2 linked regions of the Homo sapiens genome follow. The protein of the gene in region 2 purifies or fractionates together with the protein of the main gene of each other region. This does not show direct contact. Each region holds a gene or a part of one and is shown on either strand. Other genes may lie near its edges.

What was found.
Region 1: the proteins of PLEKHA5 (region 2) and ANAPC4 purify together in Homo sapiens (affinity purification with western blotting; one study listed by BioGRID). This does not show direct contact.

What each region holds. Positions count from the first base shown.
Region 1 is NC_000004.12:25,380,263-25,383,762, reverse strand, and holds part of ANAPC4 (anaphase-promoting complex subunit 4), read right to left. Parts: intron 3,390-3,500; coding exon 3,284-3,389; intron 503-3,283; coding exon 370-502; intron 1-369. UniProt on the Homo sapiens protein: Component of the anaphase promoting complex/cyclosome (APC/C), a cell cycle-regulated E3 ubiquitin ligase that controls progression through mitosis and the G1 phase of the cell cycle.
Region 2 is NC_000012.12:19,370,733-19,373,816, reverse strand, and holds part of PLEKHA5 (pleckstrin homology domain-containing family A member 5), read right to left. Parts: exon of another isoform or gene 134-3,084; intron 1-133.

The DNA.
Region 1 (3,500 bases), on a different chromosome or scaffold from region 2:
TTAAGTTACATGCTTAATTTTTTTAGACATGATGTCATTGCACATTTAAATGTACTATAGCATAATATAAACATAACTTTTACATGCACTGAGAAACAAAGAAATTCAAATGACTTGCTTTTATTGCAATGTTCACTTTATTGCAGTGGTCTGGAACCAAGCCCACAATATCTCTGAGGTATGCCTATAGATGTTTATCGGAAGGAAAAAAAAAATCTAAGAAAGCATTAAAAAATTTCATCTTGATAAACTGAAACCAAAATTTAAATACAACGCACATACACCCAATACTCAGATACTCCTAAGTTTCCATTTCAAAAAATAAAAATCTCATGAATACCCTATGACTACATAAGTTTTTCTAATTACCTGCTTTCTACTGTCACTTCCATCCAATGCATACAGGAAACTGGAGCCTCCACAGAAAAAGAGTGTAAGCTCTCAGGTTTTTCTACATCACACAAAACAATTTTCTTGGTATCAGCAAGAGCAAAGGCCAAAACTAAAACAAGAAAAAACAATCAGAATAAATTAGTGTAACAATTGAGAAAAATAAATGGGTATTTCCCTTATTGCCCAGTTTTACTCTTTTAAGTGCATCTTCATCATGGCAATTTTTGACCTAAACATCCTTCAATATTTTAAAAACTAAAAAAAGAAATATTTGCATATATTGTAGTTACATTAACTAAGCTTATTTTCAAGTGCTCAAACTTTATAGGAGATCTACTACTTTCTCACGTAGCACACTTAACGTCTTACACATCAAAGTTTCCAGACTTGAAACCCTGTTGTCAAGCAGAAAATACAAAAGAGGCTTCAACAAATAAACAATTATATGTTATCACATGTCTAAAAGGTAAGCAATGATTCCATCTGCTTTGTTCTTGGAATGCTTTTTATTCCTCTTTTATGTTTCTAAACGATGGTGGGAAACGAGGCCATTAAACACACATAAATCTTCCTTTGAGTGTGGCTGAATTTTCTAGTATGGTTTCTCCACACAAGTCATTATTTCTTCCTAACGTGCAATTTAAGAATTTAAGAATTTCCAAAAAGAGGGCAGTGAGTTTCACTGCATATCACCATCACATGCAACTTTGCCAGATGTGAACCAATCCCAGCCTTCTTACTTAAAAACAATTTAAAACTTGAAATGATCATTATCTAACAAAAAACACATTTTACTGTCCAAAAACATGAGACTTTTAAAAAATGAATAATACAACTACTTATAAACATTTTAACGCACACTTTTGTGATTTATCTTTGAGATTCCATGTTTTTGAATGATTTAGTGCAAGATCTCATAACTTTACTTATAAAAGTCCTCTAATCTTACACATATTCTACATATACTCCAAGCAAAATGACTACAGAATGAGCATAGAATGTTTAAGACATTTCCAGAAATTCCATTTTGGGTGTTAATCTAAGGAGCTACTGGCAAAGTTCTTCCCAGTGTTCAGAATGTTTACACAGCATTGCTTATCAAAGCCAAAAACTGAAAACCATCTAAATATCCACCAAAGGGCAACAGGTTTAGTAAATTACAATATATAAATATAGTGGGTTAGTACGCAATTAACATTAATGTGGTCAATCTATCCACACTGACATGGGAAAAAGTGAGGGGGGGGAAAAAAAAGAAAAAGCTATACAACAAAATGGTATGCACCAAATAACTGTCTTTTGATAAAATTATATATAGATCTCTACATGTATGTATTTTATCGGGAAATATTGGAAAAGATGTTCACCAAAACAGAAACAACTGTCATCTCTAAGTTATCTGCTTTCAGGGATTTTTTTTTTGAGACGGAGTCTCACTCTTGTAGCCCACACTGGAGTGCAGTGGTGCGATATTGGCTCACTGCAAACTCCACCTCCCGGGTTCAAGCAATTCTCTGCCTCAGCCTCCTGAGAAGCTGGGATTACAGGTGCCCACCACCACGCCTGGCTAATTTTTGTATTTTTAGTAGAGATGGGGTTTCACCATATTGGCCAGGCTGGTCTTGAACTCCTGACCTCATGATTCACCTACCTCAGCCTCCCAAAGTGCTGGGATTACAGGCGTGAGCCACCATGCCCCACCTAGGGAATTTTTAAGTACTTTTTTATATTTATGTAGGGACAAAATTAAGCAATGAAGGCCATGTGCAGTGGTTCACGCCTGTAATCCCCACACTGTAGTAGGCCAAGGTAGGCGAATCACTTGAGGCCAGGCGTTCGAGACCAGCCTGGCCAACACAGTGAAACCTTTTCTCTACCAAAAAACACAAAAATTAGCCAGGGATGAAGGTGCACGCCTGTAGTCTTAGTTACTCAGGAGGCTGAGGGAGAAGAATTGCTTGAACCCGGGAGGTGAAGGTTTCAGTGAGCCCAAGGTTGCAGTGAGCCGAGATTGCACCACTGCACTGCACTCCAGCCTGGGCGACAAGAGTGAGACACTGTCTGGGGGGGAAAAGAAAAAGCAATGAGGAGCATATATGTTACAAAAACAATTCACTTTTTTTCTTAAAGCACCAATAAAATTTTTAAATACTTTATATTTATCTACAGAAAAATTAAGCAAAGAACAACACATATTTTACAAAAACAGTTCACTTTTTTCTTAAAGTACCAATGATACAAATGAACTTTAAGCTGTAGGGTTTACAGCATTTTACTGTGCTGATTGTATGTGTACAACAGTTCCAATACAGACTGTCATTGTAAAAACATTACATGGAAAAGGAGAGTTCAGTCACCAGAGCCATAACAGGCTTTAACGTAAGAGGGTACCAGAAGAAAGATCACACACAGAAATGGAAGGTATGGGGTCAAAGGTGATAGTCCCCCAGGTGAGGCAAACACACATGCACCAAGGGAATATGAGCCACACATTTCATGCTAAAATATATTGTGAAAGAAAAAGGCCATGATGGCTTTGAACTAACTCACTGGCGAGTGGCAAGTGGTGCTTGGGCCAAATAATACAGGACAAGATGACAGTGGAAAGAACAAAACCAAAACATTTTGTATATTCCATCAGATTTCACTTCGGAGTTATCTTTGCCAAGAAGCCAGATTTTATTTAAGAGATATCTTTGCCAAGAAACAAGATAGCAGAATTAATCTGAGTTCTATAAAAATATTTTAAGGCATTTTTTTTAAAAAGTTCCCAAAGTGATATTTATAATTCTTATGTATACTAAGAACAATAAATCCTTTCTGAAAATGGGCTTTACAGAATACTCTTTGTGAAAATAAAAACATATTTTTTTTGTAATATTATCATTACGTTTGCCATCTGGTCTCCATGCCAGACACGTCACCTCCTTTCCTGTATTTTCATTTGGTGGAAAACTCCAAACTCGATGAAAACTTGCCAGTCGATGAAGTAAAACCTAAGACAAAGCAGATATAATGGCAGGAAATTAAAAATTCATTTCCAAAAATAAAATAAACCTAGATCCCTACTAAAAATTTTTTTAAATGACCATCTCTCATATATACTT
Region 2 (3,084 bases):
TGTGAATGGCTCTTAATGTATACATTTTTCTACTAAGAGGTCATCAAGTCTTTACATAGATGAAATCAAATGAGTCCAATGTTTATTTTTCCTATGTTTTGTGTTATTACGTCACCAGTAGCAACAGTCACCATTTTTTTTTTTTTTTGAGACAGAGTTTCGTTCTTGTTGCCCAGGCTGGAGTGCAATGGCACGACCTCGGCTCACTGCAACCACTGCCTCTGGGTTCAAGCGATTCTCCTGCCTCAGCCTCCCAAGTAGCTGGGATTACAGGCATGTGCCACCACGCCCAGCTAATTTTGTAATTTTAGTAGAGACTGGGTTTCTCCATGTTGGTCACGCTGGTCAGGAGCCAGGTGATCTGCCTGCCTCGGCCTCCCAAAGTGCTGGGATTACAGGTGTGGGCCACCACACCCAGATTTTTTTTTTTTTTTTTGAGACAAAGTCTTGTTCTGTCACCCAGGCCGGAGTGCGATGGTGTGATCTCGGCTCACTGCAACCTCTGCCTCCCAGGTTCAAGCGATTCTCCTGTCTCAGCCTCCCAGGTAGCTGGGATTACAGGCGCCTGACACCATGCCCAGCTAATTTTTGTATTTTTAAGTAGAGATGGGGTTTTACCATGTTGGCCAGGCTGGTCCTGAACTCCCGACCTCAAGTGATCCACCAGCCCTGGCCTCCCAAAGTGCTGGCATTACCGCACCTGGCCTCAACAGTCATTTCTAAACATATTAAATTAAAAGTTTAAACATAGCCAGGCGTGATGGCTCAATCTTGTAATCTCAGCACTTTGGGAGATTGAGGCGGGCAGAGCGCTTGAGCTCAGGAGTTTGAGACCAGCCTGGGCAACACGGTGAAACCCCTACTCTACAAAAAATACAAAAAAATCAGCCAGGCTTGGTGGCACAGGCGTGTGGTCCCAGCTACTTGGGAGGCTGTCGTGGGAGGATCACTTAAGCCCAGGAGGGCAAGGCTCCAAGATCTCACCATTGCACTCCAGTGTGGGTGACAGGGTGAGACCTGGTCTCAACAAAAAAAAAAAAAAGAAAAAAGAAAAAAGAAAAAAGGCTTAAACACAAGTGACAAAGGCAGAACACAGGTAAGACTATCACAGTTAGGTTATTTGTAACTCTCCAGCAAGCACTTCAGTCCTGCACAGATACCAACTGACAAAAACAGAAGCCTCTTTGAGGTTCCAGGTAGACATAATCTCAAATAAAAGTTACAAATATGAAAAGACAACAAAATACTTTGGGCTGAAAAAAAGGGCACAGATTATAGTTCCTACAATAAGGTGTGAAAGGAAGTAGATTCCAGAAAACAGGATGGGAGGAAATATTTGCAAACTATGCATCCAACAAAGGACTAATATCCAGAATCTGGAAGGAACTCAAAACAAATCAGCAAGAAAAAAAAAACAAAAACAAATAATCCCATCAAAAAGTGGGCAAATGACGCGAATAGGCATTTCTCAAAAGAAGGTACACAACAATGAGATGCCTCCTTATTCCTGCAAGAATGGCCATAATTGGCCGGGTGCAGTGGGTCACGCCAGCACTTTGGGAGGCCGAGGTGGGCGGATCATGAGGTCAAGAGATCGAGACCATACTGGCCAACATGGTGAAACCCCATCTCTACTAAAAATTCAAAAATTAGCTGGGTGTGGTGGCACACGCCTGTAGTCCCAGCTACGGGGGAGGCTGAGGCAGGAGAATCACTTGAACCCTGGAGGAGGAGGTTGCAGTGAGCCAAGATCACGCCACTGCACTCCAGCCTGCTGACAGAGCGAGACTCCATCTCAAAAACAAAAAAAAAGAATGGCCATAATTTAAAAGTCAAAAAACAACAGATGTTGGTATGGATGTGGTGAGAAGAAAACACTTTTACACTGCTGGTGGGAATGTAAACTAGTACAACCACTACGGAAAACAGTGTGGAGATTCCTTAAAGAACTAAAAGTAGATCCAGCATTTGATCCAGCAATCCCACTACTGAGTATCGACCCAAAAGAAAACAAGTCATTACATAAAAAAGATACATGCACATGCATGTTTATAGCAGCACAATTTGCAACTCCAAGGGTATGGAACCAACCTAAGAGTCCACCAACCAAGGAGTGGATAAAGAAAATGTGGTTTATATACACCATGGAATACTACTCAGCAATAAAAAGGAACAAAATAATGTATTTTGCAGCAACTTGGATGGAGCTGGAGGCCATTATTCTAAGTAAAGTAACTCAGGAAAGGAAAACCAAATATCATATGTTCTCACTTATAAGTTGGAGCTACACTATGGGTATGCAAAGGCATACAGTGTGGTATAATGGACTTTGGAGACTCAGAAGGGAGAGGGTGGAAGGTCGGTGAAGGATTGGGTACAACATACACTACTCGGGTAATGGGTGCACTAAAATCTCAGACTTCACCACTATACAATTCTTCCATGTAACCCAAAACCACTTGTACCCAAAGCTAGTGAAATTTAAAAAATGCTTGAAAAGGAAGAAAAAAGGCTGGGTGTGGTGGCTCACACCTGTAATCTCAGCACTTTGGGAGGCTGAGGCGGACAGATCACTTGAGCTCAGGAGCTTGAGATCAGCCTGGGCAACATGGTGAAAACTCCATCTCTGCAAAACAATTAGCCTGGCATGGTGGCATACACCTGTAGTCCCAGCTACTCAGGGGGCTGAGGTGGGAGGATTGCTTGAGCCTGGGAGGTCAGCCTTCAGTGAGCCATTGAGCCATGATCTTGCACCACTGCACTCCAGCCTGGGTGACAGAGTAAGACCTTGCCTCGAAAAAAAAAAAAAAAGGAGAGAAAATAAAAGAAATATTTTGAGAATGTGAAAATCAAAGAGGCTAGGCACAGTGGCTCATGCAGTGGGAGGGTAGCTTGAATTCAGGAGTTTGAGACCAGCGTGGACAACTTAGTAAGACTGTCTCTATAAGAAAATCGAAATATCAGCCGAGTGTGGTGGCGTGCACTTGTGATCCCAGCTACTTGTGAGGCTGAGGCAGGACGACTGCTTGAGCCCAGGAGGTCAAGGCTGCAGTGAGCTGTGATTATGCCACTACACTCCAGCAT